Linked DNA regions of Homo sapiens. The protein of the gene in region 1 interacts with the protein of each later gene in a pairwise test. Each region holds a gene or a part of one and is shown in the gene's direction. Other genes may lie near its edges.

The links.
Region 2: the proteins of FAM149A (region 1) and TESC interact in a two-hybrid assay, tested with the Homo sapiens proteins (one large-scale study listed by IntAct).

The regions. Positions count from the first base shown.
Region 1 is NC_000004.12:186,170,071-186,174,599, forward strand, and holds part of FAM149A (protein FAM149A), read left to right. Parts: intron 1-1,843; coding exon 1,844-1,917; 3' UTR 1,918-4,529.
Region 2 is NC_000012.12:117,039,039-117,044,500, reverse strand, and holds part of TESC (calcineurin B homologous protein 3), read left to right. Parts: intron 1-2,506; coding exon 2,507-2,554; intron 2,555-5,290; coding exon 5,291-5,368; 3' UTR 5,369-5,462. UniProt on the Homo sapiens protein: Functions as an integral cofactor in cell pH regulation by controlling plasma membrane-type Na(+)/H(+) exchange activity. Promotes the maturation, transport, cell surface stability and exchange activity of SLC9A1/NHE1 at the plasma membrane.

The DNA.
Region 1 (4,529 bases):
TCCTTTCCACCAGGTGCACAGGCAAAACTGGCCACAGGGGACTCCCTGGAGCTCCATGCAGCTCGGCAGGGCCTGTGCAGTCCGGAAGGGAGGGCAGAGATGCCCAGGGCTGTAGGTGCCGGCCTGTGCAATCCGGAGGAGGCCATGCCTGGTGGTCGTGAGAGACACGGGCCTTGGCACGGAAGTCCTAGCTCTGCTGCTGGGTGCTGTGACACCAGGCATTCCCTGTGGGTCTCAGCTTCCATACCTGTAAAATGGGAATAACACCTCACTTAAGGACTCCTGAAATAAAACACGGAGCAGATAACGCAGTGCCTGGTGCATAACAAGCCTCAACATATCCAAGGACTCATCCTGATCACCCATGAGCCTACTTAAGGTCAACCCTGCCTCATTTAAAAAACAAAACAAGACTGTGCCTTCAAGTTCAGGTAGGGGTGGCCCTGTCCGGGGCCAACCCCCGCCTAGAACCAGCCAGGCTTGTGCTGCTGGAGAGGAATGGCCAAGCCAAGGCACTCGGGACCAGCACTGAGCAGCCTGGTGAGCTCTAAGCCCGCAGAGCAGGCAGGGCCCCCGACAGGCAGGTGGTGTGCAGGGGTCCCTGGGGCACCAAGGGACAGGAAACCTCAGGAGAAGGAGGCCCTTTCACCCGCCAAAGTGGAACCTTCCCCACTGAACACCGGATCTCCCAGCACTGTCTGACCTTCAGTCACATTTTAAACACTGAACAGAGGGACAGAGGGACCTGTGTTCCTTGATGTTTCATCTTTGTTCATCCATCGGTCGTCCTCCAAACCAAAGTCCAGAAGCTTCTGCACTAATTTCGAAGTCAGGCTGAACCTTGAGTCATGAACAAAACTCTTTCAATTTTCCTCTAAGTCTTCATGGAGCTCATCATAAGCAGGATCCTCATAAAGGAATTTCTGAATCATTCCAATCAGTGATTCTAAGAACCACATCTTTCTGCGGTCCTTCTGAGTGGCCCAGCTGTGCAAGAGACATCCCCATGCAAAAGCAAAGCCTTGATAGCACCTGATCTCAGGCCGGATGTTGGCTCCGTGCACCCTGCGGTGCTGCCTTCCTTCAGTGACGCCCACGCTCCTGCCTTCCTCCCAGCCTTCCTGATGCCCTTCCCCATGTAACCCCGCATCCGCCTTCATGATGGCATCCAACACGGCCCGGCTCCCAGGGTCAGGCCCAGACGCACCGCTTCAGAGGATGAGCTCTTATCAGGAACTCTGAGACAGCTACTATTGATGGTCAGAGGTCTTTTCTATATCTGCAGAAGTGATCGAGGGTCCATAAGAGGGATCTTCCTGTCTTTCTGAGGGTTTGTTTTCTTTTTCTCTGACAAGCAGGCACATGACCTCCTTGCTACCTTTGCGTCCAGGTCAAAAAGCACTGGGAACTACTAACTTATCAACTTTTATTATTTCTGTGATAGAAAAAAAAAGGAGCCAAAGGGGTATTCCAGGTAGTGGGAAGGATCCCTTAAAGTACCTGGCATTGCACCTGCCCCTGGGAAGCAGGAGAGCTGCCAGGAAGTAGTGCTCCCTCAGCCTCCTGGGCCAGGACCCGCCTCTGCATGGAAGCTTCTCGTGAATCCACCAGCTCGGGAGGACGCGTGGCCTGCACCTCCGCTTGATTTTGGGGGAGCACACTTCCTTTTCCTTAGGACCCTAATAGGCAGTTTTTGCATATGACTATTTCCTAATTTATACAAAAGTGTATTAAAATAAAATATATATTTTAAAGTATTTGCATGGAGTGTACAAAACAATCGTTCTGAGTGGGTGCCTTTGTAACATTTTAATGAGAATTACCTTTTGCTTGGTGTTTCCAGGTTCACAATATGTGCCTAAATCTTTTCAGAGGACAACTTTGACTTTCAAGAGGAGATTCCAAGTGACATCTTGAAACCACCTCACCAGAACCATTGGAGCACCTGTGGCCTCGGCACACTGCTTATCACTTGAAAAATGGAGGAACAAGTGTTATATTTATCTGTGTGTCTGACAGTGTGAGATGTTAGACCGAGAGAAAAGCAAACAAATAAATCACTTAATCTTGAACACTTTGCACTGTAAAGAGAGTGAAAGTCAAACCCACCAAGCTGCCTTGCTGAAAGCATCTCCAAGGTTCTGTAGGCTTTGTTCAGAAGCCCCTGATGTGTGTTTGCAGTCCGTCATTTTATCAATGATACGCAAACATAATTAGCATGTGTATGTACTCACACACTAATTACATGTAAGAATATATTATCTAGGAATATGTCATTTGTAACTTTGTACTCTGACGTATTTTCTAGTCTCACCCTATTAGTAATTCTGTCAAAATCCTAGACGCTAGTAGATATTAGTATTTGAGACAATATGTCAGAGTCTGAATAAGACTCAGCTTGTTCTAGTCATGCTGAGTTTCTCATATATTTTTTAAAAGTGCTTCCGCCATGAACCTCTTTGAGAAATGTCAGTGGCAAAATCTCCCAAGCTAATTTTCTTTTTCTATGTTCCATCTTCAAATTCAGACAGTTCACGTGAAGTACCCCACATTTATTGATCTTAGGGTTGAATATAAACGCAATTAAAAGCTATGGCAGGTGATGTCATCTTTATTGTTTACAGTCGAAGCTCCTCCATGGGAGGGGAGCCTCCCACCCTCCACGTGCCATCAGGAGCTGGCCTTTGCCCAGACGCCACCACTGCAATGACACCTTCCCAGAGCCCTCGTCTCCTCGCGCTCTGTCCTGCTCTGCCTGGCTTTTCTTCAGAGTGTGTTTCCCCATCTGACATTACTGTAGAAAATGGAGCAGAGAACAGGAAGGGGAATTAGCAGAGATGAGGCTCCAGGCATGTCTTCCTCTTGTCCCTCTCCCCACTGTTTCTCTTGATTGTGATTCAAGTCCTTACACTCATTTTTACATTCTCAAATCTCAAATCAGCTAATTTCCTCTTTTCTATCAGATAATTGCATTTCATCAGTCTAATTTTTACTAATCCAAACTGTAACTTTATAAGGCTATATATATGAGCATATTTATAAACTTAGATTTATAAACTATATACACACATATATGTATCATATAAATGCATAATAAATTACTTTCAGACTATTTCTGGCTGTAAGGAGAAGGGATCATTGCCTACTAGTAGATGTCTGAAATTTTAAAAGATGTGTTGAGACTAACATTAATGTTGTCCTTTATCACAGGGTGACAAAAATGACCCAGAGCCTTGCCTCTGTTTGAAAATTTCTCCTTGACTTTGCTGACTCCATTTCTTTTTTCTTTTCTTTTTTTTTGAAACGGAGTCTGGCTCTGTGGCCCCGGCTGGAGTGCAGTGGCACGATCTCGGCTCACTACAACCTCCACCTCCTGGGCTCAAGCGATTCTCCTGCTTCAGCCTCCTGGGTAGCTAGGATTACAGGTGCATGCCACCACACCCAGCTAAATTTTTTTTGTATTTTTAGTAGAGGCAGGGTTTCACCATGTTAGCCAGGCCGGTGTTGAACTCCTGACCTCAGGTGATCTGCCCACCTCGGCCTCCCAAAGTGCTGGGATTATAGGCGTGAGCTTCCGCGCCTGGCCAGCTGACTCCATTTCTATAGCAATGAGACACATTAGGCAGCAGCAGCAGCAGCAGCAGCAGCGACCACCAGGTCCATGCCTCTTTTCCGTGGTCACAGCTCCATGTGTCCGGGGAAGATTGCTAATGCTTAGTTTCCTGCACAAAGCAAACCAAAGCATTTTTGAGAATTTTCTACATTATTCCTAAACATTAGCAATAGAAACTTTTAAGAGCAAATGCCAGTCTTAATTCAGCAGCTCTCCCACTTGAGGAATAGTTAGATATGTGAGTAGCCTGGAGCCCATGTTATAGGGCTGCTGGTTAGGTGCTCTCTGGTGCATCATTACTGCTCAAAGCATGACCCACTTGCTCTTTCAGATCCACTCAGGGTATTTTATGTCCATTTCCAGGAACCATCCAACTCCTTCCCTATTCAGTCCAAACTTCCTTTTTTTTTTTTTTTACTTGAAGTTCAGGGGTACATGTGCAGGTTGTTACATAGGTAAACTTGTGTCGTGGGAGTTTGTTGTACAGATTATCACCCAGGTATTAAGCCTAGTATCCATTAGTTATTTTTCCTGATCCTCTCCCTCCTTCCACCCTCCACCCTTTGATAGGCCCTAGTGTGTGCTGTTCCCCTCTGTGTCCATGTGTTCTCATCATTTAGCTCCCACTTAGAAGTGAGAACGGATGGCATTTGTTTTTCTGTTTCTGCATTAGTTTGCTAAGGATAATGACTTCCAGCTCCAGCCATGCCTCTGCAAAGGACATAATCTCATTCTTTTTTATGAGCTCAAGCTTCGTAGTAGGGAAAACACCGGATATTCAGTCTAAACTAACATTAAGGTAGGGTATCCAAGATAAAATGTTTTTTCTTTGAAAACCACTGAATATACTTTATGGTAGCTTTACCTTGTTTGGCTCCAGAGGTTTGCAAATAAGAATCTATTATTTATATATATA
Region 2 (5,462 bases), on another chromosome or scaffold:
TTGCACCGATCACCCCCTTTCCAGCCCCAGACTCTGGCCATGGGGGCCTTTTCTATAATTAGCTCCCCTTGGCCAGCCTGGGAACCTAGGGAGGCCCGGCAGGGAGGGCAGCCACTGTGCCCGTGAGTGGGAAGACAGGGAGGAAGGAGCCATTAGGGACAGGGCTGGCCCAGGCTAGCCGAGAACTGCTGGGTTTCATTTTTTTTTTAATTTATTATTTATTTTTTAAGAGACAGGGTCTCGTTCTGTCGCCCCAACTGGAGTGCAGTGGTACAGTGGTGTGATCATAGCTCACTACGGCTTCCATCTCCTGCGCTCAAGCCATCCTCCTACCTCAGCCTCTGGAGCAGCTGGGACTACAGGTGTACACCACCACACCCAGCTAATTTTTAAAAGTTTTTTAAAAAAGAGATGTTTTGCTAAAAAGAGATGTCATTATGTTGACCAGTCTGGTCTCGAACTCCTGGCCTCCAACAGTCCTCCTGCCTTGGCCTCCCAAAGTGCTGGGATGACAGATGTGAACCACTGTGCCTGGCCAAAATTTTTTTAAGTATAAAGAGGAAACTAAAGAGCCTGCAAAGTCCTGCCAGTAGAAACAGCCCTCAAGGACTTGGAGGCAGCTAGATGCTCCCAGCTGGACAGGCAGCTCCCTCTGTGTCCCTCATCTGTAATACAGGAGAGAGACTAGAACCCAACTCAGGGCCGGTTGTGAGATTGGCATCTATCATTAAATGCTAACAATAGCATTTGGTCACACCTGTAATCCCAGCACTTTGGGAGCCCCAGGCGGTTGGATTGCTTGAGGTCAGGAGTTCGAGACCAGCCTGGCTAACATGGTGAAACCCCTGTCTCTGCTAAAAAATTTAAAAAATTAGCCACGCATGGTGGTACATGCCTGTAATAATCCCAGCTACTTGGGAGTCTGAGGCAAGAGAATCACTTGAACCTGGGAGGCAGAGGTCACAGTGAGCCAAGATCGCGCCACTGCACTCCTCCAGCCTGGGCAACAGAGCGAGACTCTGTCTCAAAAACAAAACAAAACAAATGAAAACAAAACAATACCACTTGGAAGGCACTTGGGACATACATGCCTGGTGCATAACATGCTTAGAGTGTGCCTCCTGTGTTCTTAAACACACGTTGTACAGAATTTCAGACAGTCACAGAGAGAGCTTTGAGCCTCTCCTGCTCCCCCACCAGCCCAGGTCCTCTTCCCTAAAGGGACTCCCTCTCGGTGGTTTTTTTCCTACATATACCAATGTATACATGCATGTCTTTTATTTTTGATGTATGCAAAACATAATCGAACCGATGTGGCTTCCCATTTTCTCCGTATGACCCCACACACCCACAGGGCAGATGGTGGGGGTCTGGTTATCAGTCTGAGGAAAGGTTTGCGTGCACAGACCTGCAGACATCTTTCTGCTTGTTGGGTTTTGTTTTTTGTTCTTTATCTGCTGGGTACACATCTCAGAGCCTTTTCCAGAGTGAGACATACAGATCAACCCCTTCTTAACCCATTTTTGCCTGAGGTTGCAGCTTTTTCAATTTTTGCAATCAGACCTTGGCGATGACCTTGACCAGTAGGATATAAGTAACTCCCACAGCTTAGCGTTCCAGTAATGGAACACTAGGCATAAATGGTTAATGGTTGCGTGGGAATCAATAGCGTGGATGACCGAGATTTATGTCCCTCGCCTTCTATTGACGGGCACCTGGGATGTCAGCGGGTTTTCGCTGTCACAAAGCGAGCTGCAGGGTGAGGTTTTTGGAGGCTTGTCGGTGGGATCCTGGAGTATCGGTGAAAGGGGCAGGAGCACCTGGTGTCATCCCCAGAGCAGGGAGGACGCAGAGGCGATGGAGACTGGCATCGCCAAACCCACTCAGCAGGGAGAGGCTCCTTGTGGCCACCCTCTGGCCCTGCCCTCCCCAGTGGCCCTGAGTTATCACGGTGACTCACGAGGCATGAGGCGTGGGCCTCACAGGCTGGCCCTGTGTTTCCCTGACCTCTCCCCTGAGGTCTGTGAGCTTAGATTAGCCTGGAATCTTCTTATCAGCACAGCGCAGGCATGAGGAGGCCAGACCTAGGCGGGTACAGGAGGCATCTTGGTGGTCCAGCTGCTGGGGGGCTGGTGGTGAGGTGGGCTGAGTGGGGAAGGAGAGCCCCATGCCCTCATGTCACCCACACCTCGGATTCTCCCTGGGGGGCTGGGGGAGGGGAGGGAGGCTGCTCTGAGCCACACGTTGCCAGGGCCCTGGTGAGCGACGCTCGGCTCCCATCCCACCCTCAAGCCCATGAATGAGGATATTGGAGGTTCAGGGTGACCGGCTCCATGCTGGAGGCAGACGATCCAGAACGTTCTCCTCTTCTTGTGATTCCTCCCAAACAGCCTCAACAACTTACATTTGGGTATTGGTGGGGAGGGGAGGCCAGTGGACCGTCCCCCTGCGGAAGCTGTGTGGGGACCTGCGCCACTCACTGTCCACCCTGTGCTTCCGTCCCCAGGAGCCTGATCAGGTGTACGAGGGGATCACCTTCGAGGACTTCCTGAAGGTGGGTGGCCTGGGCGTGGGAGCCTCGGGGGACCCTTGAAGACCTCGTGTGGCCCACTGGTCAGGAGGGGACATGGCTCTTTACCTGCAGTAGCAAGGGACAGGCTTCCTGGGTGACCAACATCTCAGTAGGAAGGGGTCAACCTGGGCATGGCCTTTAAAGCAATTTAAACTGGTTTTTCTTATTTTTATGGAAAAGGTAATATTCACACGTAGTCAAAACAATGTAAGCAGTACAAAAGGGTATATAGTGTAAACCAAATTCTCTCCCACCTGCGGTCCCACTGCCGCTTCTCAGAAGTAACCCCCGTTGTAGGCTGGGCGCGGTGGCTCATGCCTGTAATCCCAGCACGTTGGGAGGCTGAGGCGGGCAGATCACCTGACGTCAGGAGTTCGAGACCAGCTTGACCAACATGGTGAAACCCCATCTCTACTAAAAATACAAAACTTAGCCAAGCGTGGTGGCAGGCGCCTGTAATCCCAGCTACTCGGGAGGCAGAGGCGGGAGGATCGCTTGAATCCAGGAGGTAGAGGTTGCAGTAAGCTGAGATTGCGCCACTGTACTCCATCCTGGGTGATAGAGTGAGACCCCATCTCAAAAAAAAAAAGGCCCTGTTGTAGTTGGAACAGGGATTCTGGGAACTTTCTGTGTCTTTAGAAATAGTGTTTCTCGGAAGCTCAGTTTGGAGCTGACTGCACACGTTGCGCCCGGGCCTTCCTCGCTGTGTCCTAAAATGACACTTTCGTAAAGCGGCCGCCCACTCTGCCCTCCTCCCTGATGGCTCCTCCAGCCTCTGCTAGTGGATGGTGGTTAGGCCAGTGCTGGCCTTGCAAATCAAGACCTGCTCCTGGCCGTTTTGATAATCAGATGCCCTGTGGCAGGGAGAGGACCCCTGTCCCCATCCCCCTCCCCCCATCCCCCTCCCCGCAGTTCGGCCCTGGGCATCACAACAGTGTTCCCAAGTGCTTTTGGGGTACTTGAGGAAGACAAGGAAGTCAGGGGAGCAAGAGACCAAGAGAGGAGAGAGGATTAGGGAAGGAAGGATCACGGCTTCTGGCCAAGGAGCCTAGAGCAGGACTGGGGGACTGGGCCCTCAGGGTCACAGCCCCATGGAGCCGAGGCCAAGCCTGGCAGCCAACGGTTAGAACCGGCAGGAGAGAGGAGAGGCAGGCAGCAGGGCCTGGCTGTGATGAAAGGCTGAAAGGAGACTGCGGAGGTCGGCAGGCCCCGTGGACTGCCGTGCAGATGGCCCACCCCGGGGCTGGCAGGGCGGGCAGACTGGGAAAAGGCAGAATTTGCACTTGTGCTTCAGACTCACTCTGGCCTATGCTGGGGACCCGGTCACCAGAGAAGGTGACGCCCGCCAGAGCAAGACAACAGAATGAAGAGCTAGAAGGTGGAGGAGGGAGGGAGGGTTGGGGAGGAAGTATCGCTGCTTCAGGCTGAGTAGAATGAATTTCTTTGCCTCCGAAACCAACTTCCTTCCCCTAAAGGCTGGCCTCTGCCAGGCCCCTAGTGCTCCCCAAGCCTGTCCCTGTACCCCTGAGGGATCTTTTGGGACCAGCTGGCCCTTCCCATTCCCTGATTCCTTCCAATGCCCTCAGCGACCATGTTGCCACCTGGCACTTAGCAGAAACCACCGTGAGTGTCCATGCGTGTTACCCTGGGAATGCCTCGTGCATCCAGCAAGGATGGGGCCGCTCGACTGGGACCAGAGCTGTCTTTGCACACCCCATGACACCCAGAACAGGCTCAGGAAAGCAGGAAGTACCTGGGGGCTGCGGCCGGAAATGTCCCAAGGCCTCCCTGTCGCCTGGGTGCCCACGGGGCTCTGACTTTCCCCCGTTACCAGCCTCGTGGCTGTCCCCGGAGATGCTGAGAGTGACAGCTTGAGAGTTTGATTCTTACATAAGCGGGAAGCAGTGAGAAGTCACCCGCCCACCACGTCCCTCCGTTCCTGTTGGCACCCCCCCATCCTACCATCTGTGGCCCCCGTGGGCCCTGACTTGCTAAGGCGCTGGCGGGCATAGCCTTGGGAGCACTGGGGTACATACATGGCCTTGTAGCACGAAGGCCCACTCCAAGGTTCTGGCCAGGCTGGACTGTAACAGCAGTACCAGCACCAGGAATGGGGCCACCATGTGATCTTTGGGTAGAAATGACCTTTTTGGGCTTGAGTTTGTCTTTCTAGAATGCACGTGATCCCTTATCCCAGGGAGGTTGTAAAGACCACACTGTGGAGATCCTTAAATTGATGACGATGGCCTAGCGAAGCCTTGTGACCGCACAGCCCCTAACAGTTTACAAAACGCGTCCATGATGAGGACGGGTCCATTAGAGCCCCCAACGTTCTGTGAAGTGGGCGGCACAGGTTGGGGAAGGGGACTTAATGGGGTTATGTAATTTGCATGAAAATCACAGAACCTGAAGTGGTGGGTGAGATTCAAATGCCTTGGAGCTAAGAGCTTGGATTCAGTACTTAATAATAACTTGCTGTGACAATCTCAGAAAGAATCCAAATGTCAGAGCCAAATTAACCAGCAAAAAAGACAGATGGAAGTTTTTCGTCCTCGCTTAGCTCATAGTCTTGAAACACAGCCCTCTGGTTTTCACCTGCCTGGAACATCACAGTTGGTGGCAGGAGACGGTAGGTGGGAAGGGCCGAGGACCGGGGGGCCTGGTCAGGTGTGAGGTGGCGGCGGGAACGTGCCCTTAACGCTGCTCCGTCCCTTCCAGATCTGGCAGGGGATCGACATTGAGACCAAGATGCACGTCCGCTTCCTTAACATGGAAACCATGGCCCTCTGCCACTGACCCACCGCCACCTCCGCGGAGAAACTGCACTTTGCAATGGGGCCGCCTCCCCGCGTAGCTGGAGCAGCCCAGGCCCGGCGGACAGCCTCTTCCT